Homo sapiens: one gene and its partners. The protein of the gene in region 4 purifies or fractionates together with the protein of the main gene of each other region. This does not show direct contact. Each region holds a gene or a part of one and is shown on either strand. Other genes may lie near its edges. The genes, in order: SLC25A22, FAM162A, NDRG3 and ATP1A3.

The links.
Region 1: the proteins of ATP1A3 (region 4) and SLC25A22 purify together in Homo sapiens (affinity purification with mass spectrometry; 2 studies listed by BioGRID and IntAct, with this or other methods). This does not show direct contact.
Region 2: the proteins of ATP1A3 (region 4) and FAM162A purify together in Homo sapiens (co-immunoprecipitation; 2 studies listed by BioGRID and IntAct, with this or other methods). This does not show direct contact.
Region 3: the proteins of ATP1A3 (region 4) and NDRG3 purify together in Homo sapiens (co-immunoprecipitation; 2 studies listed by BioGRID and IntAct, with this or other methods). This does not show direct contact.

Annotation. Positions count from the first base shown.
Region 1 is NC_000011.10:789,975-795,281, forward strand, and holds the end of SLC25A22 (mitochondrial glutamate carrier 1), read right to left. Parts: exon of another isoform or gene 5,290-5,307; intron 5,196-5,289; 5' UTR 5,033-5,195; coding exon 5,013-5,032; intron 4,928-5,012; coding exon 4,802-4,927; intron 4,615-4,801; coding exon of another isoform or gene 4,540-4,614; coding exon 4,484-4,539; exon of another isoform or gene 4,479-4,483; intron 3,646-4,478; coding exon 3,555-3,645; intron 3,015-3,554; coding exon 2,896-3,014; intron 2,793-2,895; coding exon of another isoform or gene 2,754-2,792; coding exon 2,579-2,753; intron 2,485-2,578; coding exon 2,330-2,484; intron 2,244-2,329; coding exon 2,168-2,243; intron 2,095-2,167; coding exon 1,941-2,094; 3' UTR 501-1,940; downstream 1-500. UniProt on the Homo sapiens protein: Mitochondrial glutamate/H(+) symporter. Responsible for the transport of glutamate from the cytosol into the mitochondrial matrix with the concomitant import of a proton. Plays a role in the control of glucose-stimulated insulin secretion.
Region 2 is NC_000003.12:122,387,161-122,394,200, reverse strand, and holds part of FAM162A (protein FAM162A), read right to left. Parts: intron 1-7,040. UniProt on the Homo sapiens protein: Proposed to be involved in regulation of apoptosis; the exact mechanism may differ between cell types/tissues.
Region 3 is NC_000020.11:36,680,089-36,687,128, forward strand, and holds part of NDRG3 (protein NDRG3), read right to left. Parts: intron 4,388-7,040; coding exon 4,325-4,387; intron 2,491-4,324; coding exon 2,430-2,490; intron 815-2,429; coding exon 728-814; intron 1-727.
Region 4 is NC_000019.10:41,970,231-41,977,270, forward strand, and holds part of ATP1A3 (sodium/potassium-transporting ATPase subunit alpha-3), read right to left. Parts: intron 6,337-7,040; coding exon 6,186-6,336; intron 5,568-6,185; coding exon 5,399-5,567; intron 313-5,398; coding exon 158-312; intron 79-157; coding exon 1-78. UniProt on the Homo sapiens protein: This is the catalytic component of the active enzyme, which catalyzes the hydrolysis of ATP coupled with the exchange of sodium and potassium ions across the plasma membrane.

The DNA of each region.
Region 1 (5,307 bases), on a different chromosome or scaffold from region 4:
GCAGGACGCCGCGCCCGCCCCGCCCGCCCCGCCCGCCGGGAGCCCCCCGCCTTACGCGTCCTCCGGCCTCCCCGGGGCTGCGCGCTCCTCCGCGGGATGACGGCGGCTGCGAACGCGGAGGAGAGCTCGGGAGTTTCCCACAATGCACTGCTCCCGGCGCAGGAGGGCGGGGAGGGGGAGGGGCGACCGGGCCCCGCCCCGCCGGGAACCGTGGGATCCGCAAACCCAGCTCCGCCTTAGATCCAGGGGTAGAAACTTAGGGTCCGAGAGAGCAACTGCGGGGTCCAAGTCCCATCTGGGACTGCCAGAGGCAGGAGGCGGGTCCCGCTCAGCATCCCCTCTAGGCCAGGGTGCCCCTTGGTCGGTGGGTGACGGGTCGGTGGGTGAGGGGTCGGTGGGTGGGTGCGCAGGCCTAGCCCTGCAGTCTGAAGGGAGCCAGTTATGGGAAGAGGGGACTGCCCTCCCCCGCCCCCAAACAGACCCCCAGACAGACAGCAGCATCTACTTAGAATATTTATTTATTCTCTGACATGACAAGACACAAAAAGTTACAACTTCTTAAAACTCTTCAAAAGAAAAAAATATAATTCTGTAAGCAGCAGCAGCAGCTTCCAAGGTTCTGATGTGACGGGAGGGGCAGCTCCCAGGAGCAACCGTGAACTGGGGGGGTCCAGGCCTGAGCCCCAGGTAGTGTCGCTGGGAAGGGGCCTCTGTGGAGGGCCCCGGTTTTGGGGACACAGCACCAGCACATCAGGGTCTGTCACCAACACGATCACATGGCCAGGGCGGGGCAGGGAGAGCTTCGGCTCACAGCAGGGATCGCCCGGTGGCAGGGGGGATGGGGCTTCTGAAGTGTGGTCAGGGGCCTTATGCCCGGAGGCGGGAAGGATGGGGCTTCTGCAGTGTACCCAGGGGCCTTATGCAGAGGCTGAAAAAGGAGGGTGGGCCCTGAGAGGACTTGGGGGTGTGGCAGCTCCTGGCCCTCCCTCCAGAGCAGGGCAGGCACCCTCAGGCTCCACACTGGTCCCAATGCCCGCCCTGCTCCCTGGCCAATCCCAGGCCAGGGTGGAGGACTCAGGAGAGACCAAGCTGGGTAAGTTAGTTCCTGGACGGGGTCAACAGAGCCTGGGGCACACACAGCACACAGAGCGCCTGGCCACGGCGGGAAGGGGGGCAGTCCCCAGCAGCCCCATCCCCAAGGGCCAGGCCAGATCCCCACAACACACACACGCATGCACACACACATACACACACACATGCACACAGACCTCACAATCTGGGCCCCAGCCTGGGGTGGGAGCTGAGGAGCCCACCAGAAAGTCCCACAGTGGGTGGCGGGCTTGCCCCAAGAGTCAGACCTCAGGGCAACCCCTCACTTGGGATTCCTGGCTCAACAGAGAGGGCAGGAGACCCCAGTCCTCTTGCAAGGCTGGCCAGGGAGGCAGAGTCAAGTCCTGCCAAGGCGACAAGAGCGGCTGGGGAAGGACGGAAGGGCTGGAGAGCCGCTTGGGTCCAGCAGATTCAATAAATAGGTTTGTGTGGGGTGCCTGTGTGGGCCAGGATGGCTGTGGAGACTGGAGCTGGTGGACTGGGGGTATGGTCCAGCCTGCCCGGCCCAGGCCCGGGGGCCCCCAGCCCAGAGACCAGCTCTGTCCCTGGGGGTGTTCAGGCCAGGGCAGGATTGGGGCAGGGGCTAGCTTGAGGAATGTAAAGATTTCTGCATTTTCTACATAAATGAGACATTGATCCCAACGGTGCAGGCAGCACCCCGGGGGGCTTGCGTGTGCACCACCTATGTGGACCCTGCACCCTGCCCCCTGCTGCCCCTGCCGACGGGAGGGCTGGGGAGGGGTCTTCCCTTGCTCCGTCCTGGGCTAGCTGCCTGGCTCCAGCCCCACACCGGCCCTGCCCAGCTGGCTGGGGTGGAGCGGGTGCTGGGCTCAGGCCTGGGGGTCCTGCAGCAGCCCCAGCAGGGACTCCGCGATGCCCAGGAAGTAGACCACCTGTGCGATGCCGAAAAGGGGCGCGATGACCAGCGCGCGGCAGTAGGCGCCCTTCAGGAAGGCCGAGGGGCCCTCGTGCCGCAGGATCTTCCTGTGGAGGAAGGACGAAAGGGTCAGCCCGGTACGCAGGCCCCCAGGCCCCACCCGCCGTGGGACCTCCCCACCTGGCACAGTCCAGGATCCCAGAGTAGGTGTCCTCGTTGACGCCTCGCTGAAGTGACTGGAGCCGCGTCTTCACCACTGCAAGGGGCGCTCGGGTCAGTGTGAGCCTGGCCAAGGGCTCAGTCCCGCCCCATCCCCAGCCGGGCGCCATCCCATGCACTGACCATCACAGGGGTTGACGGCCACAGCGGCGGCACTCCCAGCCACACAGCCGGCCAGGAAGGACACGTAGAAAGGCGACTTCTCCTCGGACGCCGGGCGGCCCAGCTGGTTCAGGTTGGCAAAGAGCGGGAAGTACACCACAGAGAAGGGGACATCCCTGTGGGGAGGGAGGTGGCCGTGGGGACAGGAGGTGGTGGGGTGGGCAGGCCGGCCTCCCCCTTCCCTCCCCCCACCTGCCCTGTGCCTCCTACCTGAGCAGCGTGGCCCCGAGTCCCTTGTAGAGACCGGCAATGCCACGGCTCCGCAGCAGGTCGCGGGTCAGCTGGGTGGCCGTGGGCCGAGGGGCAGCTGGAGCCTCCACTGAGGGCTGGGCACCCCCCTGGGCCGAGAGCTGGCCCTGGGCAGCCAGGATCTTCCTCTGGGCGGCTGGGGACAAAGAGGCTGCTGTCTCCTCTTCTGTGCGAACTGGGCAGGGGACACGCTCTGGCCCTCCCTGCGTCCCCACCCTCCCCTCGCCCTCACCTCTTCCCGCACCTCTGCCCTCTCCTCCCCCTCCCCCCGCCCTCACCAATGCGCCCTGCATCCTGCAGCTGGATCTTCAGCATCTCCATGGGCGTGGTCACGATCACCTGGCAGGTGCCAGCCCCACAGCCCGCCAGCATCTCTTTAAGCAGGGTCAGCTTCTGCCTGTGGTAGGGGCGGGGCCGCAGTAAGTGGGAAGAGACAGGTCTACCTGCCACCCTCGGGGCTGCCCACCATGCCTGGGCGCAGAGGATGGTGGGAGCCGTGGAGGCAGATGCAGGCCTGTGGGGGTACAGCCCCCAGCCTCCGCCACTGCAGCAGCAGGCAGGGAGGAGACCGATGGACAGACGGCCCCACAGGCAGGGGCCTGGGGAGGGCAGTGGGGCTGTCTGCGACAAAGGAAAATGGGAAATTGGGGGTCAAGTGCCCCAAAAAGGGGCTGCCCTTGCAGTCCCCCTCCAGTGATGGGGGAGCTGGTCAGTGCCCTCAGGCCAAGGGCTACCAAGCCAGAGCCCCACTGATTTGACATCTGCTTTGCTCCCCTGGTCAGGGGAAAGGAGGGAGGGTGCCCCACGAGGTCAAAGAAGCCCCAAGCAAGGGGCTGAAGACAGGCAGAGCCCCCAGGTGGGACCCAGCTGGCAGGGTGGACCCATCCTTTATCTGAAGCCAAAGACCCCTCGAGTGTCTGCCAGGCAGAACCCTCACCCGTCCTTAGAGAGCTGATGTCGGAAGAAGTCGTTGGCTGCCAGCTTGATGGCCTTCTCGGGGGTGACGAGGGTCAAGTTCACAGCAGCTCCTGTGGGGCAGGGGGTCAGCTGGGGGGACATGCTCGGTGGCCTGAGTGGGGAGGCGCTTGGCCAGGACTTGCCTCCTGGCTGGCAAAACCCTGTCCCAGTCACTCCTGGCCACCATCTGTTCTCTCACCCACATTTGGGCCTGGTGTGTGCCAGGTGGGGCGGGGCCAGGCAGGGATGGGGCAGCACCTCAGGCTCAGGCTCTCCCATGCCCACTGCAGCTCCATCTGTCTCTGATTCTGGGCAGCATCTTGCTGCTCAGGGCATGAGGACTGCCCCGGAGCCCCTGAGGCCTCCCTAGGATACCTCTCCCTCCCTGGAGGACAGATGGTGCTTGTGCTGGCAGGGGGCTGGGGCCAGAGGTCACAGGAGTGTGTGGTCTGGACTGGGCCAGAGCTCGGGGGAGGCTGTGGAGAGCCCCCATCTCAGTGCCGAAGGCTCAGGGCTGGAGAGCTTCTGCCAAATCTAGGCTCTGGATTGTGTCCTAAGCTGCTTTGCGGTAATGCCCCTTACTCCCTCCCATCCCCAGCCACAAACGGGGTCCAGCCTGGCCCAGAAGGCAGAGGCAGCTGTGGCCACCAGAGAAGAGACAGATGTACCATGGCATCCCACGCACCAGGCACTAAGTGGGGGTGGGGAGCTGCCACGGGAGAGGCTGAGAACTACCACTCACCAGAGATCCAGTCCCCCCTGCACAGGCACAGCCCCCACAAACACGTCCACGCTCACACACCAGGCCCAGGCTGGCCGCCCTGCCCTGCCTCCCCCACCGCTCCCTGCCACGACTCGCGGGCGCTACCCAGGCCTGCCCATATCGAGCCCAGCCGAGCCAAACCTCACCCCGGTACATGCCGAAGTAGCCCTCGGAGCGGACGGTCTTGATGAGGCAGTCGGACCTGTGGCCAAGGGGACAGGGTGAGCCAGGGCCAGCTGGGGCCAGCCGGAGGCCAGGGTCCCTGGACTGTCTAGGGCTGATAGAAGAGGCCAAGTCCTCAGCCCAGCCCCGACCCCAGTCCTGACCCACGTGGGATCTCCCCTAGGCCCGCCTGCCTCCCGTTTCCCTTCTGTCAAACAGGGTGGGGGGCACAGGAGCAGAGCCCCCACCTCTCCTGCTGCCACATGCTGGGCCCACTCCCCGCGACCGCCCGGCACACTCACATGCTCGTGTACACGCGCTGGCCGTTCTGCTGGTTCTGCAGCCTGGTCTTGGCCAGGTCGATGGGAAACACGCAGGTGACACCGATCAGCCCGGCGATGCCGCCATTGATGAGCTTGGCTGGCAGGCTGTGTGGACAGGGGTGTCAGGACCGGCTTCCTTGACCATGGGTCAGGGTGGGGGTGAGGCACGCAGCCAGGACTGGAGTCTGACCTGATCTGCTTATCAGCCATTTAACTCGATTGCACCCAGGTAGGAGCCGCAGAGGTGGACGCCAGGCCAGGCGGGGTGGAGGTGGAGGTGGAGGAGGCCTTGAGGGAGGGTGGGACCCAGGGGGGTTGGGTGGTGCTCCACCTTCAGGGGAATTTCCAGGCGTCAGCAACCGCCACTTCTGTCCTAGAAGGATGAGGGAATGGGAATGAGTGAGGGTGGGGCCACCCGAAGAGTAATCCTCCCCCAGCCTCCCTCTCTCACGCAGCCCCTCACCCACCACCCCAGACTGAAGCCG
Region 2 (7,040 bases), on a different chromosome or scaffold from region 4:
TAGTTTAGCACCATCCTTCTTGGTGCTGTCCTCGTGATAGTGAGTTCTTATGAGATCTGGTCGTTTAAAAGTGTGTGGCACCTCCCTGATCTCTCTTGCTCTTGCTCTGGACATGTGACATGCCAGCTCCCCCTTCGCCTTCCACCATGATTGTAAGTTTCCTAAGGCCTCCCTAGAAACTTGACAAATGCCAGTATCATGTTTCCTGTACAGCCTGAAGAACGATGAACCAATTAAACTGCTTTTCTTTATAAATTACCTAGTCGTAGGTATTTCTTTTTAGCAATGCGAGACTGGCCTAACACACCTTCCATTCGTGCTCGGACAGAGACTAAATGTGAGGTGAGAGCTTAGAGACCTCTCAGGTTTTTCCTGGAAAATGTGTCCAACCTTACACATATTACATTCTAGAAATATGTCAGAGCTTTCCAGATGTCAGGATGGACATCTCATTCCCCAGCTTCTTGTTTGACCCAGCTGTTACCCACTCCATGTTATGTCAAACAAGTGCTGCTGATTATTTTCAACAAATGCACCAGGGAAAACACTGTTTGCAGTGAATAAACTCCAAGTCAGGTGAAAAAAGATAAGCCCTGTGAGTGGGGTTTCCAGCGAACTGTCAGACAAGTCAAATAGTAACAATTCTCTGCAGCTGGAAGTTTTGGAAAACTCTTAAACCCATTCTGCCTTCTTCAGTGCCTGCAAGGCTGCTGGTTTTCAAAGTAACTGTGATTTGTGAGGCTGTTGGTTTTCAAGACTATTGTGAAGCTGAAAGAAGACAGGAATAAAGCAAGTTAAAACTCCACAAAACTTGCTGTCCTACCACGATTTCAGGCTTTTTTTTTTGGATAAATGCTCCTCAGATTGTCACAAATGCCTGGTAATTTTCCAGAGTTCTGGAAAAGTTGCTTCTGCCAACTTCTGGCAGTGTTATCATTGCTTTTGGGTAAAAATGGATTTTCAGAGGTCCTTACTCTTGACACACCAGAAGTTGGAATCTCTATTTGTGGTTACCTGGCACACAGTCTTTTTCATAAAAGGCCTCATTTATTTTGTTTTCTAGGGCTATAAATGCCAGAAAGCTTTGCCTGGATCTGGCAAACACAACATCAGTGCCACCTAGTGGAAAGGAGATAAATTAACTGCTTTTAGCTTGTTTCCTCATTTAAAATGTGGATAATGCAGTGTTTCTTGTACCAAAGTTGATTTGAGGGTTAAATGGAAAAGCAAATATGGGAGCATCTGGTAAGATGCTTGAAACACAGCAGGCTCTCTAACTGTTAAGTTTATTTTTTTTTTGAAATATTATGTAAAACATTAACTTTGATAAAACTTCTAGAACACTTTTCAATTTTACCCCTAATGTGGTCAGGATTTCTGACAAAGTTAATTATGCAGTTATGAGGCCATGGGAAAAGTCTATGAAACTCTTCAATAGATTTTCATAGCACTCAGGATTAAGACACAATTATTAAATCCTGTGATCTTCAAATTTTAGTGTTTTAGTGTTTGGTGTGAATCAGAGGAATGCCTTGTTAAAACACAAATCATGAGGCTGTCTACCTCCAGTTTCTGCATCCACAGTTCTGGAATGGAGGCTGGGAATTCGCATTTCTAACAAGTTCCTAGGTGATGCTGCTATGCTGGTTCTGGACTATACTTTGAGAACCTAGGCTTTTCTCTCCCCTAAGATGTGGTTAAATATACATAACATAAAATTTACCATTTTAATTATTTTAAGTGTACAATTCAGTGGCATTAAGTACATTTACACTGCTGTGCAACTATTACTACTATCCATCTCCAGGACTTTTTCATCTCCCCAGAGAACCACTGGTTTAATGTGACCTACAAGGCCCCATCTCACACAATGCTATCCCATTCCTCCTTTGGCAGGCACTTACAAAAGGAACAAGGTTAACCGGCAGCAAGCTAGAAGGACTCTGCTCTTTAAACAGAAAAAGAATCAATAATTATTTCCTAAGACAGCTGTCCTTTCCCATTCCTCCTAATTATAGAACAAAGGCAGTTTAGGAGAACAGAAGACAAACTGCCTCTCAGCTAGCTCAGTTTGAGAAATAATAAAGCAAAAAATGCTAACATGTATACCTACTATCAGTGACATCGATGTATGTTGGAGTAATTCATTCAACAAAGTACTTCCTATGTGCCAGGCATTGTTTTAGGCAATATATAAAAAAGATAAAAATCTGTGCCAATAGAACTTGCATTCTACTGGGGAGAAAGTTATACATATGTTAGATACTAAGTGCCAGAGAGAAAAAAATAAACAATGGGGACATGAAGTATGTGTTTGGAATGGGCTGTGTATGAAATTTTACATAGAGTAGTTAGGAAGTCCTCTGTGAGAATGTCACTCTTGAAGGGAAGCAAGGGCTAGCTATGCAGCTATCTGGTGGAAGAATATTCCAAACAGAAAGAATTATAAATGCAAAGACCCTAAAAGATTCTAGAGCCCATAAAGAGAAGGCCAGTATGGCCAGAACAGAATGAATAATGGGAAGACAAGTAGAATTTGATGTGAGAGAGGTACTGAGGTAGTTATGGAGGGTAAGGACTTGGAGACATGAGAGGTTCACCTAGATCAGACTGTATCTCCCAACTTTTTCTTACTACAACTTCATATTGTATGCTAATAACTTTTACCTCCCTACAGTATAAATGCTGATTAAAACATACACACATATTATCTTATTATAGATATTAGAATAATAGACTAATGTAAATATATTTTTTTAAAGATGAGGTCTTGCTTTAAAAATATTTTTAAAAATGTTATCACTACATAGTGAAACCCCACCTCTACAAAAAATACAAAAACTAGCTGGGCGCAGTGGCATGTGCCTGTGGTCCCAGCTACTCAGGAGGCTGAGGCAGAAGGGTGGCTTGAGCCCTGGAGGCAGAGGTTGCAGAGAGCTGAGATCATGCCACTGCACTTCAGCCTGGGCGATAATGCCAGACCTTCTCTCAAAAATAAAATAAAATAAAATTTTAAATTTTAAAAAGTTATCGCTAAAAAATGTCTGAAGTATTTGATGTGGTCTTGGTTTTTATTTTGCAATTATAACAACATGAAAGCATAAACAAACTTTAATATCATTACTAAGACCTTCGTTTTCTCTCAAAGAGACAGAATATATTGACCAGACGTCCAAGCCAGAAATTTTCCATCCTCTGGTGGATCACGATTAAAAACATACAAACCAAAAGAAAAACAGCCCTTTAACCCTCTAGCTGGACTTAACAGCTTGTCCCTGGCTGACCAATTCTGTGTCTCCAGGGCCCTAGCAGGAAGTTAAGATGAAGCCTCACAGCTGTCTCTAAGGCTCTGGGTGGCAAACGGCTAATCTTAAGAGTAAAGGTTCTTAACTTTTTTATCTATCGAAATCACCTGGGGGACCCTGTGAAACAGATTACTGGACCCAACTGATACAGTCAGTATGGACAGAACCTGAGAATGTGCACTTCTAACAATTGCCCAGGTAATGGTGAAACTTCTGCTATGGGGGACCCATAATCTGAAAACCAGTGCCTTAGAAATATCATTGCTAGCTGGAGGCTATAGTGGTCAGCCAGGGTGAGGCTGGTTGAAGTACCAGCTTCTCTCCTGGTAGTCCCCTCCTTTCCATAAATATCCTTTCCAACCCCATGATAGACAGTGAGGAAAGGTAGGGATGCTTTTTCTTTCTCAGAATCTTTCAAGGTCCTCTTGGAGAAAACCATAGGTGATGTGACTGGAGATATGACAACTCTCTGGGAATCAGAGAATCAATATTACAACCCACTCCCCAGAGTGTCTATCTGAAACTCTCTAGGCCTTAGCTGTTGACCTGGGCTTTGTGACAGAAACAGACTCCCTATATCCGTTTTCTCATCCTTCCCTGCAGGCTTGAAGAAATACCAGTCTTCCTTTATTCTTAAGTAGTAATCCCTCTGCTGAGGGATGTCGTACCAAACTTATCCTTATTTTCCACTGCCTTTTTCCTGCCAAATGTTATCTCCCCCATCTTTAAAATCAAAACTAAAAAACTTATTTTTTTTTTTAGAGACAAGGTCTCACTTTGTCACCTAGGGTAAAGGGCAGTGGAGAGATCATAGCTCACTGTAACTTTGAACCGGGCTCAAGCGATCCTCCTGTATCATCTTCTGGAGTAGTTGGGACCACAGGCAGATGCCACCATGTCTAGCTAATTAAAAAAATTTGTTTTGTAGAGATCGGGTCTCACTATGTAAAAACCTTTGTACCACCAAGTTGTTACACACCATGTTATGTAAAAAGCTTTTAGTAAAACAAACTTTAAATGATAAAAGTAACACTTGCTCATTACAGAAAATTTGGAAGTTAAAAAAAGATGTGAAGAAAAATAAAAGCACTCATAATCATAGCACTTAGGGATAACAACTTGGTGCATTAATATTTCTTTTCAGACCTTTCCTATACTTACATAAAACATATACATTTTTCATAATCAGATAATACTGTATCTTGCTATGTCACAAATACTTTCCAAGATATTAATACTTTTAATAGCTGTATAAAACCCGACACACAGCTATAATCTGAATGTAGTAATTCCCTACAACTTGATTTCTTTCCAATTTTTCAGTGTTATAAGTAATGTTTCAATGAACAGTTCTCTACATACATCTTTGATGGTATTTCTGATTATTTCCTTAGAATAAAATCCTGGAAGTGAAGGGTAAAAGGGTATGAACCCCTTTAAGTTTCCATCTATCTATCTCATCTATCTATCTATCTATCTATCTATCTATCTATCTATCTATCTATCTATCTATCCATCTATACTACTTTCCAGAAAGGCTGACTACTTCTCCAGTAACTTCTACTAGTAGTTACTGAGAATTCTGTCTTATTACTCTACAATAACACTGAAGGTCCACTATGTTGGACAAAGCATTCACTTGTTCTCAACAGGTACTATTAATAAAATTCTTATTTCCTCTTTTTCATAGCTCAAATGATTGAATAAATGGCATGTATCTACTACTTCACTTCACCACCCACACTTTATTTTGCTACAATGTTTCCTTCTCCAATCATTTTACTAAAATTACTCTACCAACATTAGTGACCTCTTTCTAGTCATATGAATACATTTTTTTTTTTTTTGAGACGGAGTCTTGCTCTGTTGCCCAGGCTGGAGTGCAGTGCTGTGATCTCAGCTCACTGCAAGCTCTGCCTCCCGGCTTCACGCCATTCTCCTGCCTCAGCCTCCTGAGTAGCTGGGACTACAGGCGCCCACCACCACGCCCGGCTAATTTTTTGTGTTTTTAGTAGAGACAGGGTTTCACCGTGTTAGCAAGGATGGTCTCGATCTCCTGACCTCGTGATCCGCCCACCTCGGCCTCCCAAAATGCTGGGATTACAAGCTTGAGCCACCGTGCCCGGTCATGAATACATTTTTTTAGATTCTCATCATTAGCCCTTCTGACTCTACTCTTCCCATTTTTGTGGCCATTTGATTCGACTGATCTCATCTTTCTACAAGGATTCAATGCCTCCTTACATTGTACCACCAAATTCTCTCACTTCATCTCCAACCTCTATGACCAATCTTCTTTAATGTCTTCTTTCCCAGTTCCTATTATTTACACCATGTCACACCTCCAAGGCTTAGTCCTTGCTTCTATTCTGTGCTACTCTCTGGAAGGACTCCTCCATTCTGTTTTAAAAATCAACTCCAGACTAATTGCTCCCATATCTTTATCTCCATAACTTTACTCTTCCTTTGCCCTCAGGTCTTCAACCTCTCACAACCTATAACTCAGTGCCACCTAAACCTACTCAATAATGCACCATCTTCTCTGCCAAACTAACACAAATCTTTGATGGCGTTTCTGATTATTTTTCCAACTTTCTTATTTCTGACAATGAGGCAATACTTCTGTAGTCCTCAACATTAAAAAACTTGTCTTTAAGTCCTTCCTTACTCAGTATCTCCAAACTCATCCTTTCTTCAAGACACTTCCTAAATATATTCGTTATTTCCATCATCACCTCACACATCAGTTACTGTAATATCTTCATAGGTAGCAGCAATTCAACTGGTATGTAGTTGCTGAGTTAATTTTCCAGAAATGTTTCTTGTGTTACTTCTCCTGCTAAAAGGTTTTTTTGGTCCAAATTCATTTGGTTCAAACGTCTCCAAACACTACACTTTACCTCCTATTGCCTCCTGATCAAAATCCCTAAGGTAATCTTTCCTCTCTCATATCCTTTTTCAGACTCATTACCGCCCCTACATGTGCTCACAACTCATTACCGCCCCTACATGTGCTCACATCACTCTCACACCCCTTCATTTCAATGGAGCCTTCAAGAATCTCAGAATTCTTGAAGCCAATGGTATATTATATATGTTTGTTTGTTCATTGCAATAAATCAGCCCTAGGAGTGGGGCAGTCCATTCATTTTAGAGCCTTCACAGTATACACACAGGGCATCCATTGTGTACTCAATAAATACTTGGCAAGACCTGGAAAGGAGCAATAAGTAAAGCCAAATGTGGGGGTAGTTAAAATGCGTACGTTCTCATTTAGGTTTGGTTAGCAAGAACAAACAAAAAGAATAAGGTAGCAGAATGTGGTAGAAATAAAATCAGAATGGGAGCCAGGGGATACTGGCTATGTCCCAGGTCTGTACCTGTGTGGTCCTTGGCAAGCTGATTCCCTTCTTGGCCCTTAAGTTTCCTCATCTGTAAAAATTAGAGGACTAAATTACCTGACTTCTAAGATACCTCTCTACTCTAATGCTCTGAGATGTGGGTTAAACTAAAAGGAAGGCAGCCCATAGTCCATTACATTGGTAACAATGACGGTAACAAATTCATTTTCAAATCTGACCAGTCAACAGAGTTTAGGGGAGCAAAACTTTCTTTCAATAAGAAACATTCTTGTAAGGTCATTCCATTCCTTTGAACTAATAATCATTCTGTGGAAAGATACAATATCCTAAAAGTTATATCTATTTTATTCTTTCAGGAGAAAACAGGTGTGAA
Region 3 (7,040 bases), on a different chromosome or scaffold from region 4:
GCTGGGATTACAGGCATGAGCCACCGTGCCCAGTCCAAACTGTAATTTAGAACTACTGCTACATACAACTTGGATGAGTTTCACAGACACCGTGATGAAAGAAAAGAAACCAGACAGGCTGGGTGCGGTGGCTCACGCCTGTAATCCCAGCAGTTTGGGAGGCCGAGGCGGGTGGATCACAAGGTCAGGAGTTCAAGACCAGCCTGGTCAAGATGGTGAAACCTGGTCTCTCCTAAAAATACAAAAAAATTAGCCGGGCATGGTGGTGGGCACCTGTAATCCCAGCCACTCGGGAGGCTGAGGCAGAGAATTGCTTGAACCGGGAGGTGGAGGTTGCAGTGAGCCAAGATCATGCCACTGCACTCCAGCCTGGGCAACAGAGTGAGACTCCATCTCAAAAAAAAAAAAAAAATACAGTTTCTATGATTCCAATTTAACAGATAAAACTGTTTAAAAACAGATAAAACTTATCTCTGGTAACAACAGTCAGAACAGGTAATTTCTGGGAAGGAGAGGAAGTATCAATTAGGAAAAGATACAACGGAATCCCCTAGTGAGCTGGGAATATTCTATATCTTGATTGGATGGTGATTTTATATGTAAACATTCTTCAAGCTATATACTTAACATTTTTACCCTTAACTGTATATATACCTCAATGAAAAACTGGTAAGCTGTTTTGAGATGGGCCAAGATAAGCCGATGGACACCTTCATGTGGTACTTACTTTGGAAGCTGCCCAGTCAATCCAGCCTTTAGCGCAAGGGTCAACATTAATGAGCACAAGGCCTTCCACAAGCTCTGGATGGTTGAGCTGAAAGATGAGGCAAAGACAATAGTATGAAAGCTACACTCCCACAGTTCTTCTAAACAGTTGGAACATGGTTGATCAATTCTTACTTACATGCCTTAATGCCTCACATTTGAAAGTAAGACTACAAAGAGGGAGAACATGTGGAAAAATAGCTCTTGAAATCTGACTTAGCATATGGAAACCAGTTTCTGGTTTTGCTATCAAATTACTTATTTTACTATCAAATTATCTTGTCTTGCAAAGATCTATATGCAGTTGTTCAATTCATGGTGGATCTTCCTCATTGGGAAAGTGCGCTTGGCACAAGCAGCTGCTCCATGCTCATATATCTTTGTTCTCAACAGAGGCTTCTGAAGTTTTTTTTTCTGAAACCATCTGAACAGTCTGTATCATCCTCAGAAGACTCTCCTATCACTGAGGACGTATTAAAAAAAAATAATGATAATAATGTCTGGCCGGGCACGGTGGCTCACGCCTGTAATCTCCGCACTTTGGGAGGCTGAGGAGGGTGGATCACGAGGTCAGGAGTTAGAGACCAGCCTGACCAACATGGCGAAACCCCATGTCTACTAAAAATGCAAAAATTAGCTGGGTGTGGTAGTGGGCGCCTGTAATCCCAGCTACTCAGGAGGCTGAGGCAGGAGAATCACTTAAACCCAGGAGGCGGAGGTTGCAGTGAGCCGAGATTGCACCACTGCACTCCAGCCTGGGCGACACAGCAAGACTTCATCTCAAAAAAAAAAAAAAAAAAAATTTATAATAGGAGCTCTAGCTCTCTAGCTTATTTAATTTAATTTAATTTAATTTTCTTTTTGAGACAGAGTTTCGCTCTTGTTGCCCAGGCTGGTGCAGTGATGCTATCTCGGCTCACTACAATCTCGGCCTCTAGGATTCATGCAATTCTCCTGCCTCAGCCTCCTGAGTAGCTGGGATTACAGGCACCTACCACCACGCCCAGCTAATTTTTGTATTTTTAGTGGAGACGGGGTTTCACCATGTTGGCCAGGCTGGTCTCGAACTCCTGACCTCAGGTGATCCACCCGTGTCGGCCTCCCAAAGTGCTAGGATCACAGGCGTGAGCCACCGTGCCTGGTCCCTGGCTTACTTTTTTTCTCTGACTACAGTGATTATATTCACGATAGAAAATTTGATAAGCAGAGAAATTATAAAAAGCAGAAAATAAAAATTTCACATTATCTTACCACATATCAATCCATTAATATTTTTTGGTACATTTTCTTCCAGTCCTTTCCTATGGCTATGACAAACTTTATGTCAATCTATATTCTAACTTTTTGGTTAACATTATAATGTATGCAAACCATGTATCATTATAAAGCTTTTCGTAAACTTAATTTTAATGGCCGCACAAAATTCCATTATAAGCAGCATCTAGGACTTGCTTTTTATTGATGATGTACTGTCCCCATTTGTGATTTTTCAGGTATTGTTAAGTACAAAGCTAGGCTTTATACAACCTGTATCTAAAGCTGACAGAAGTTACAGAAAAACTGACATAAGGCCCAGAATACTGCCTGGTCATTTAACACAGCAGTAATAGCTGTGACCCAGGCACTGCCTCAAGGATGTTGAGGCTAATCCTCTACATACTTACTGCAAATCTGCTGAGGATGTAAGCTCCAGCTCCAACTCCAATTCCAATGATGCTTTTCAGGCTGTGAATGGGACATAACGACAACTGACAGAGTCAACTTCATTTGCAGGCAGCATTGCATAATTGAAAGCATACAACCTGGGTTGAAATCCTGGCTCTGATATTTATTAGATGTGAGAATTTGGGCAAGTGTTTTTTTTCTTTCCCCTAACTTTCTGAGCCTCAGTTCCTTATTTATAAAACAAGGATCTCAGCTGGGCGCAGTGGCTTACGCCTGTAATCTTAGCACTTTGGGAGGCCGAGGCAGGCGGATCACGAGGTCGGCGGATCACGAGGTCAGCAGATCAAGACCATCCTGGCCAACATGGTGAAACCCCGTCTCTACTAAAATACAAAAAATTAGCCGGGCATGGTGGCGTGCGCCTGTTAAAAAAAAAAACAAAGGCTGGGCACGGTGGCTCACGCCTGTAATCCCAGCACTTTGGGAGGCCGAGGCGAGCGGATCACGAAGTCAGGAGATCGAGACCATCCTGGCTAACACGGTGAAACCCCGTCTCTACTAAAAATACAAAAAAAATTAACCAGACATGGTGGCGGGCACCTGTAGTCCCAGCTGCTCGGGAGGCTGAGGCAGGAGAATGGCATGAACCCGGGAGGTGGAGCTTGCAGTGAGCCGAGAATGCGCCACTGCACTCCAGCCTAGGTGACAGAGTGAGACTCTGTCTCAAAAAAAACAAAAAACAAAACCAAAAAAAACAAGGATCCCACCAACTACTTTCAAGTTGGTTTTAATGGTTAAATAAAATATAACTGAGACCGGGGGCAGTGGCTCACGCCTATGATCCCAGGACTTTGAGAGGCCAAGGCAGGTGGATCATTGAAGGTGAGGAGTTCGAGGTCAGCCTGGCCAACATCATGAAACCCCGTCTCTACTAAAAATACAAAAAAAATTAGCCAGGCATGGTGGCCTGTGCCTGTAATCCCAGCTAAATGGGAAGCTGAGGCAGGAAAATCGTTTGAACCCAGGAGGCAGAGGCTGCAGTGAGCTGCGATCGCACCACTACACTCTAGCCTGGGTGATGGAGTGAAACTCCATCTCAAAACAAATAAATAAATAAATAAATATATGTATATATATGTATATATACATATATATATACACACACATATATGTACACACACACACACACACACACATATAAAAATATATATAACTGAAACCTGGGAGTTATCCTTGGTAGCTGTCAGTATCCAACCCATCAGCAAGTCAGTGGAGTCTATCTCCAGAATATATCCATCTACCTACTACTATCTACTTCAATCATCCCCCAACAGCAGCATCCAGTACCATGCTATCATTATCTCTTGCCTGGACTATTGTTAATAGTTTAACTGTTCTCCCTGCTTTCTCTCTCTGATTCTTCTCCAAACCATTCTCTTCTCAGTGAGATGAACGTTTTTAAAAAAATTTAAACAGCTTTATTTTTATTTTTTAGATACAGGGTGTCTCACTGTTACTCAGGCTGGAGTGCAGGGGTGGGATCACAACTCACTGTAGCCTTGAACTGCTGTTGTTAAGTGATCTTCCTGCCACTTGGCCCAGCTCAAGGTAGATTTTTAAATCTTCTAGGTCTCAGCGTGTGTGCCACCTTCCTAGAGAGGAATTCCCTAACTTGCCTTACTAATGTAGATCCCACCCTTATTCTCTATCACAACACCCCCACTGACTTATTTTATAGAACTTTATTATTTGTTTGCTTACTTGTTACCCCACTAAGCTCTAGGAGGACAGTGATAATATTTTTCCTAACCATCATATCCTCTGAAACAGACACTAAATAATTCACCATAGAAAGTCAATAAAAACTGCATGAAAGACTGCAGAATGAACCTACCTTAGGTGGGTAAGAACAGGAGGCAGCATTTCAGCCAGCTCATCCATTGTGGGGTACTGATACCTGCAATCCAGAAGGATATCTCCTGAATTAGAAAGCACTCACAATTCCCAGTTGCTAGAACAGCTGGAAAGGTCCAGAAGTCTTAGATAAAAGGCTGAGCGCAGTAGCTCATGCCTATAATCCCAGCACTTTGGGACACCGAGGTGGGCAGATCACCTGAGGTTGGGAGTTCGAGACCAGCCTGACCAACATGGAGAAACCTCATCTCTACTAAAAATACAAAATTAGCTGGGTGTGGTAGCACATGCCTGTAATCCCAGAAACTTGGGAGGCTGAGGCAGGAGAATTGCTTGAACCTGAGAGGCGGAGGCTGCCGTGAGCGGAGATCATGCCATTGCACTCCAGCCTGGGCAACAAGAGCAAAACTCCGCCTCAAAAAAAAAAAAAAATCTTAGATAAAAGCATTTCCTTTTACCAAAGGCTCAAAGGAGGTGATGTGGTACCCTGAAAATGATTGTGGCATATTGTGTAACTCTCTACAACTGCCATGCTAAGGAGAAAGTAAAATAATCCACGGTTTCTATATCCTAACAAGCAGCCCTTGGGACCAGAGGGTGCCACATGAAAAGAACTAGTAACATGGTTCTCTCTTAGGGTATTTCCAAACCTCTAACAATCTCTTCAGTTGGAGTCCAGGCTCAGTAAACCTCCGGCAGTAAGAGTCAACTCAGAAAGGGGGTCTTGGTCTACTGCTATATTTAGGCAACTAAATGCAAAAATAAAGCTTTTCTAGGTATGGGCACACAGTTACAAACCCTTAGCATGAATGCTTATTTGTTTCACTTAGGCATAGAATAACATAGTTATTTTTAAAATTTTATTATTATTATTATTATTATTATTAATTTTTTAAGAGACATGGTCTCACTCTGTCACCCAGGCTGGAGTGCAGTAGTGAAATCATAGCTCACTGTAACCTTGAACTCCTGGGCTCAAGCTATCCTCCTGCCTCAGGCTTCTGAGTAGCTGGGACTACAGGCGCATGCCACCATGCCTGGCTAATTTTTCAATTTTTTGTAGAGATGGAGTCTCGCTATGTTGCCAGGGCTGGTCTTGAATTCCTGGCCTCAGGTGATCCTCCTACCTCAGCCTAACAAAGTGCTAGAACTACAGGTGTGAGCCACTGTGTCTGGCATGGTTATTTTATTGTATTTGAATTTGGTTCATAATATGAACCATCTGATCCTAAGATGTTCGAGCAGGCCCAGGAACAGACCCAGATCAGAATTCCTAGAAAAGTAGTAAGCATCCGACTGGGAGCGTTGGCTCACGCCTGTAATCCCAACACTTTCAGAGGCTGAGGCAACCAGATTGCTCAAGCCCAGGAGTTCGAGACCAGCCTGAGCAACAGGGCAAAACCCTGTCTCTACAGAAAATAACAATAATTAGCCAGGCGTGTTGGCACACACTTGTAGTCCCAGCTAGTAGGGAGGCTGAGATGGGAGGATCACTTGAGCCCAGGAGGTTGAGGCTGCAGTAAGCCATGATCACGCCACTGTACTCCAGCCTGGGAAACAAAGCACTATCCTATCTCAAGAAAGAAAGAAAAAGTATTACAGAATTGGAGATGGAATTGATCCTAAGATGACCACTTATATATGAGGCAGGATCTGTTCTACATCTGACAGGGAAGTCAGCCTGCCTCTGCCTGAACACTTAAGGGGATGGTGTGCTGTGGAACCATTTGTCCACAAAATAGAAAAAAGGAACTGGATACAAATCTTGTTGGATATAAACTGACCACTGGCCAATTTGCATTTTAGAGTCAGATTCTGGCACCAGACTGTCTGGGTTCAAATCTTAGCTCTGCCACTTATTTGTTATGTAATGTTAGCCATGTTACTTAATTTTTCTGGGCCTCAGTTTCCTCACTTATAAAATGGGAATAATAGTAAACTTATCCCATAGGGTTGTGAGGAGTAAATGAGTTAACAAATGTAAAGCATTTAAAGCAGGGTCTGGAACACGGTTTGAGTACTATTTAAATATTAGCTATTATTTGTCTGCAATTGTCTATTTCCCAGCAGTCACTGGCCAAAGGCAGCTCTGGAGATGAGTGAAAGGATAGGGGAAGAATTAGCATTCCACAGAGTGTGTGCTCACTCCTCCTAAGGTCTTCTCAATAAGCACCCGTCCAGGGAACAAACAGGTAGGGAGCCTATGACTCTGCCCTGCGAAGCAGATGTAGGAGGAAGCTGAGAGTGCCAAAGCCAATCAATCACCCCACACCTCTATCTGCCAGGACAGCCTCTCAGAATAAACAGTTACACAGATAGTCAAATTTCCATTACTAGTTTGAGAGCTAAGGATGGGGAGATGCTCCCAGGAAAGCTCAGAGAGATCTGAATTTGGGCCTAAGTAGTTGGGAGTTTTGAGGAAGGACACAAAAATGACAGGTTTTTTTGTTTGTTTGTTTTCTTTCTGGGGACAGGGTCTTGCTCAGTCATCCAGGCACTGCAGCCTCAATCCCCTGGGCTCAAGTGATCCTCCCACAACAGCCTCCCAAGCAGACACGACCACAGGTGAACACCACCATGCCTGGCTGGCTAATTTTTCAATTTTTTGTAGAGACAAGGTATTCCTATGTTATCCAGGCTGGTCTTGAACCCCGGGGCTCAAGCAATCCTACTGCCTTTGCCTCCCAAAGTGCTAG
Region 4 (7,040 bases):
GTCCGTCCGCGGGTTCCTGGGCTGTCTCTTCATGATGTCGCTTTCGGCAGCCTCGTACGCCAGTGAGATGGCAGGGACCTAGGCGGAGGAGGCCGGGTGAGCCGGAGAGGGGAGGACTCCACCCTCCTGGGCCCCAAGGGTGGCTGCCAGGGCTCACCATGTCAGTGCCCAGATCGATGCAGAGGATGGTGATGGTGCCCAGGGGCAGCGGGATGTTGGCCATGATGAACAGCAGGAAGGGCGTGATCTCCGGGATATTGCTGGTCAGGGTGTAGGCAATGGACTTCTTTAGGTTGTCGAAGATCAGGCGGCCTGTGGCACAGGCAGGCTCAGAGCAGGCGCCCATGCCAGGGAGCCCCACTCCCTCTGCCCCTCCTCTGCCCTCATCCAACGTCCTTTTTTTTTTTTTTTTTTTTTTTGAGACAGAGTCTCGCTGTGTTGCCCAGGCTGGAGTGCAGTGGTGCGATCTCGGCTCACTGCAGGCTCCGCCTCCCGGGTTCACGCCATTCTCCTGCCTCAGCCTCCCGAGTAGCTGGCACTACAGGCACCTGCCACCACGCCCGGCTAATTTTTTTGTATTTTTATTAGAGACGGGGTTTCACTGTGTTAGCCTGCATGGTCTCAATCTCCTGACCTCGTGATCTGCCCTCCTCGGCCTCCTGAAGTGCTGGGATTACAGGCGTGAGCCACCGCGCCCGGCCTGTCCAGCGTCCTTTTCTACCCCCCAGCCCACCCACCATTATTTTCTTTTTGGGACAGGGTCTCACTCTGTTGCCCAGGCTGCAGTGCAGTGGCATGATCACGGCTCACTGCAACCTCGACTCCCAGGCTCAAGTGATCCTCCTGCCTCAGCCTCCCATGTAGCTGAGACTACAGTCACGCGCCACCACGTCCAGCTAATTTTTGTATTTTTAGTAGAGACAGAGTCTCACCACTTTTCCTAGGCTTGTCTAATTTCTGGGCTGTGATTCCATCTCAGCCTCCCGAAGTGCTGGGATTACAGGCATAAGTCTCCACACCTGGCCCCTCACCCACCTACCTTTCCACATAAACATCCAACCACATCGCCTTTGTGGAAACATTCTTGAAATAACCACTTTGGAAGATGGTTTCGGAGTTGCTATCAAACATCCCCCACCCCACCGACCGAGTAATCCGACTCCTAGGTTTTATACCCAAAAGAGAGGAGGACTGTTTATGCCCAGCGAAAAGCAAGTACGAGAATGTTCACCATAGCACCACTCATCAGAGCCAAAAGCCAGAGTCAACCCCATGTCCATCAACAGGTGAGGGATGAATAAACCACGGTACATCCATGCAGTCAAATACTACACAGCAAGAAGGGGCGAGCTACGGACACAACTCCACAGCTGGACCTTGGATCCCGTGCTGAGTGACACGAGCCAGACACAAAAGCATTCTTAGCATCCAACTCCAACTGGAGCAGGCTCAGCACCCGTCTCTGGGCTAAAAGTCAGGATAATGGTTATGTCTAGGAGGAGGGATATAGACTGGAAGAGAGCAGACAAAACCTAAATGGGGGGCTGGAATGGTTTTCTATCTTGACTGGGGTCTGGTGGTTGCATGGCTGTGTACATGTGTAAAAATTTATACACCCTGTCTGGTTGAATATTTTAATGAGATATAATATGCCCAACTCACTGTATGCATGCCATATCTCAATAAATATTCAACCAGTACAGGTTGTCTAAAGTAAACAAAATAAAGATTAATCCAGGCCAGGCGCTGGGGCTCACACCTGTAATCCCAACACTTTGGGAGACCGAAGCAGGAGGATTGCCTGAGATCAAGAGTTCAAGACCAGCCTGGCCAACATGATGAAACCCCATCTCTACTAAAAATACAAAAATTAGCTGGGCGTGGTGGTGGGCACCTGTAACCCCAGCTACTTGGGAGGCTGAGGCAGGAGAATCATTTGAACCTCAGAGGCAGACGTTGCAGTGAGCCGCAATTGTGCCATTGCACTCCAGCCTGGGCAACAGAGCAAGACTCCATCTCAAAAAAATAAAATAAAATAAAATAAACATTAGTCAGGCACGGTGGCTCGAGCCTGTGGTCGCAGCTACTTGGGAGGCTGAGGTGGGAGGATCACTTGAGGAGGTCGAGGTTGCAGTGACTGATGATTGCAGCACTGCGCTCCAGCCTGGGCAACAGAGTGAGACCTTGTCTCTAAATAAATAAATAAGTAAAAAGATTAGCCCATGAACAATGAGGTCAATCATTAAGAAAGAACAGGCGGGCACGGTGGCAAACACCTGTAATCCCAGCACTTTGGGAGGCTGAGGCGGGTGGATCACGAGGTCAGGAGATCGAGACTATCCTGGCCAACATGGTGAAACCCCATCTCTACTAAAACACAAAAAATTAGCTGGGAGTGGTGGTGTGTGCCTGTAGTTCCAGCTATGTGGGAAGCTGAGGCAGAAGAATCGCTTGAAGCTGGGAGGTGGAGGTTGCAGTGAGCCAACATCACGCCACTGCACTCCAGCCTGGCAACAGAGCAAGACTCCATCAAAAAAAGGGGAGGGGAGGGGAGGGGGAAGGAAGGAAGGAAGGGGAAGGAAGGAAGGAAGGAAGGAAGGAAGGAAGGAAGGAAGGAAGGAAGGAAGGAAAGAAGGAAGGAAGGCAGGCAGGCAGGGACGGAGGGAGGGAGGAAGGGAGGGAGGGAGGGAAGGGAAGGTGAAGCAGGCTGCCTGTGGTGTGGCTTCTTTGATTGCTTTGATGTCTCTTGCATAGCAATAAGGGCCTGGGCCGCTCCCACCTGATATTCTCGTTCCCTGCATTGTGCTCTTCTCCACAAACTAGGGGTTTCTCATCCTAAACTATTTATGGATGAAATGGTGACAAATGTGCATCAGCATAATCCAGTGTGTGTTCCAGGTGGTGGGGAAGAAACAAGGTGTGCCGTGCGCTGACTGCCGCTGCAGGTGGGATGGAGGCGCAGGGGCCCACTGTGCCTTTGCTTTACTTTTGGGTATATCTGGAATGCCCCCGTTGGAAGTTATTTTGTTTGTTTGTTTGAGACAGGGTCTCGGATCTCGCTCTATCCCAGGCTGGAGTGCAGTGGCACCATCATGGTTCATGGCAGCCTCGACCACCCAGGCTCAAGTGATCCTCCTGCCTCAGCCCCCCAAGTCTCTGAGACTACAGGTGTGCAACACCACGCCCTGCTAATTTTTAAAATTTTTTGATCTTTGAGGTCTTAATTTGTTGTACAGGCAGGTCTTGAACTCCTGGGCTCAAGCGATCCTCCCGCCTTGGTCTCCCAAAGTGCTGGGATTACAGGCGTGAGCCCCCGTGCCTGGCCCCTGACGGAAGTTAGGTATTTCTTCCCTCACTTCAGAGAGGCCTTCCCTGTCCACCCCATCTGGGCAGGACCCTCACTATTATCTATCACAGCGGCCTGCTTTCTTCGGGGCATATATCACAATTTGTAATTACATATCTGTTAACTTGTTTAAGGCTGTCTCTCCAGCCCTGTGAGAACAGGGATGGTGTCTGCTCTGCTCACAGCTGCCTCCCAGGCTTCCAGCATGATGCACAAGATTCGGAAGGAGCAGACGGCTGTATCTGAGACAGTGTGTGTACTGTGTATGCATAGATGTCTTGGGGAGGCCAGGCGTGGTGGCTCATGCCTGTAATCCCAGCAAATTGGGAGGCCAAGGTGGGAGGATTGCTTGAGCCCAGGAGTTGAAGACCTCGCTGGGCGAGGTGGCTCACCCCTGCAATCCCAGCACTTTGGGAGGCCAAGGTGCGGGGATCACTTCAGGTCAGGAGATCAAGACCAGCCTGGCTAACATGGTGAAACCCCATCTCTACTAAAAATACAAAAATTAGCCTGGTGTGGTGGCATGCACCTGTAATTCTAGCTACTCGGGAGGCTGAAGCAGGAGAATTGCTTGAACCCAGGAGGTGGAGGCTACAGTAAGCCGAGATTGCATGCCTGTACTCCAGCCTGGGTGACAGAGCAAGACTCTGTCTCAAAAAAAAAGAAAGACTAGTCTGGGCAACATGGCGAAACCCCATCTCTACAAAATCTTAAAAATCAGCCAGGTGTGATGGTGCATACCTGTAGTCTCAGCTACTTAGGGGCCTGAGGCAGGAGGATCGATTAAGTCCCGGAGGTGGAGGCTGCAGTTAGCCGTGATTGTGCCACTGCACTCCATCCTGGGTGACAGATTGAGACTCTATCCCCGCCCCCAGCCCCCAAAAAAAGATGTCTCTTGGGAGATAAGAAGGTGTTAACCATGGTTTCCTCTGGGATATAGGAGACAAGGGCTGAGGACATTTAATCTGTTACTCTGGGCTCGGCTTTGCCGTTTGAATTCTCTTTTACCATGAACTACTTTTTACACCAGAGACATTTCAAATAGGAGAGAGAAATTGGAAGAAAATCCACCAAGGCATGAACCGTGATTATTTCTGGATGGCGAGGTTACGGGTGATTCTACTTTTTTCCTGAATGCTTTTCTGCATTTGTCTATGATTATCATGAATTAATTTGATGATCAAAATAAATCTGAATGTGAACCAACCCTTCTGTGGCCTTGTCTGGGCCTGTCAGGAGGTGGTGCCTGTCGGCTCAGCAGCACCAGCCTCAGACCCAGCCCCTCACACCGCCTTGCCTGTGTACCGGTTCCTCTGCCTGCGACTCCCTGGCACTAGTCTATGTGGACGTCACAGCATGGCCCCTGACTTGGCTCAGCCATCCCTGTCCACTCTGGGAAGCTCCCTTGACCCCCAGCCCAGGCTGGCAGAGGGGGTATCCCCCAGGGTCCCTGGCTTCCCCCTGGTTGGGCTTGAGAATTTTTTTTTTTTTTTGAGACGGAGTCTCGCTCTGTCCCCCAGGCTGGAGTGCTGTGGCGCAATCTCAGCTCACTGCAACCTCCACCTCCTGGGTTCAAGCAATTCTCCTGCCTCAGCCTCCCGAGTAGCTGGGACTACAGGCAACCGCCACAATGCCCGGCTAATTTTTTGTATTTTTAGTAGAGACGGGGTTTCACCATGTTAGCCAGGATGGTCTCGATCTTCTGACCTCATGATCTGCCTGCTTCAGCCTTCCAAAGTGCTGGGATTACAGGCGTGGCTGCCGCCCCTGGCTGAGAATATCTTTAAAAAGCCTCCAAGTCAGCTTCACCCACCAGATGGGGCCTGGGCTGGATGACGCAGGGACCCTGAAGTGTGTCAGCTCAGTCCTGCCCAGGGGAGCTCCCGACCCCACAGGGGAGGAAGACAGAAAAGGACAGGCTCAGGCTCCTCCAGGGCCAGGGGGCCTGTGGTCTCTGCCACACATCCCCCTGCAGCCCTGGCCAGTTCCCCTTGCTGGTCTCAGGCCTCCGGTAGTGACCCTGGTCTCCAGGGCCACCCCTGGCCAACTCACCCTCCTCCACCCCTGTGACGATGGAGGCAAAGTTGTCGTCCAGCAGGATCATGTCAGCTGCCTGCTTGGAGACGTCAGAGCCAGCGATGCCCATGGCCACCCCAATGTCGGCCTTCTTCAGAGCGGGGGAGTCGTTCACACCATCCCCGGTCACAGCCACAATTGCACCCTGGAGGGAGAGAGGGTAAGGATGACACCCAGAGGCCAGTCCCCAGAGTCCCCTCCCTCAGATCCAGAAGCCCAGGACCCCAGCCCCCTCCTCCTTCAGACCTAGAAGTTCAGGTCCCCAACCTCCTCTTCCCCTCAGACCTAGGAGTTCAGGCCTCCAGACCTTCCTCCCTCAGACCCAGGGGTCCAGACCCCCAGACCCTCCTCCCTCAGACCCAGAGGTCCAGGCCCCCAGCCTCCTTCTCCCTCAGACTCAGCAGTCCAGGCCCCCAGACCCTCCTCCCTCAGACCCAGGGGTCCAGGCCCCCAGCCCCTCCTCCCTCAGACCCAAGGGTCCAGGCCCCCACCCCCTCCTCCCTCAGACCCAGGAGTTCAGGCCCCTATCCCCTCTTCCCTCATACCCAGAAGTCCAGGCCCCCTCCCTCAGACCCAAGGGTCCAGGTCCCCAGCCCCCTCCTCCCTCAGACCCAGGAGTCCAGGCCCCCAGACCCTCCTCTCTCAGACCCAGGGGTCCAGACCCCCAGCCCCTCCTCCCTCAGACCCAGGAAACCAGGCCCCGGCCTCAGTGAGGACCCAGGAGTCAAGGCCCCGTCCCCTCCTCTGCGGGAGCGCAGCCCACCTGTCTCTGACAGCCCTCCACAATGATGAGCTTCTGCTGGGGGGATGTGCGGGCGAAGACGATCTCGGTGTGATTCTGCAGGATCTCGTCGATTTGCTCGGAGGTGAAGTCCTTGAGGTCGGTGCCGTGGATCACGCAGGCCTTGGCATCCCTGGGAAGAGCAGAGAGAGCGATGGCTGAGGTCAGGGTGTGTGAGGAGTGGCAAAGTGATCCCTGAAAGACAGAGAAACAGAGGGGCCAGCCCCACAACCAGGAGAGCCAGAGGACCAGGGGCTGGGGGAAGAGGCCTCTGGGAGAAGCAGGGGAGAAGGGGGCTACTGCAGCAGGGCGTGCGGGCAGACCTGAGGAAGGACTTTGGGGCAGTGGATTTATTTATTTATTTATTTATTATTTATTTATTTATTTTTGAGATGGAGTCTCGCTCTGTCACCCAAGCTGGAGTGCAGTGGCGCAATCTCGGCTCACTGCAACCTTTGCTTCTTGGGTTCAAGTGATTTTCCTGTCTCAGCCTCCCTAGTAGATAGGATTACAGGTGCCCACCACCACGCCTGGCTAATTTTTTTTTAATTTTTAGTGCAGATGGGGTTTTGCCATGTTGGCCAGGCTGCTCTCGAACTCCTGACCTCAAGTGATCCACCCACCTCGGCCTCCCAAAATGCTGGGATTACAGGCGTGAGCCACTGCGCCCAGCCAAGACACAGTGGATTCAGAGGAACGGAGATAAATGGACAAGCTGAAGGAAGGCAGAGTCAGAGATAGGTATGAGGATGGGAAAGTTGAAGAAGTCAGAAAAACAGAACAGAAAAGAGAGACAATGACAGACAGACAGGAAAAAAGAGAGACAGACACAGAAGT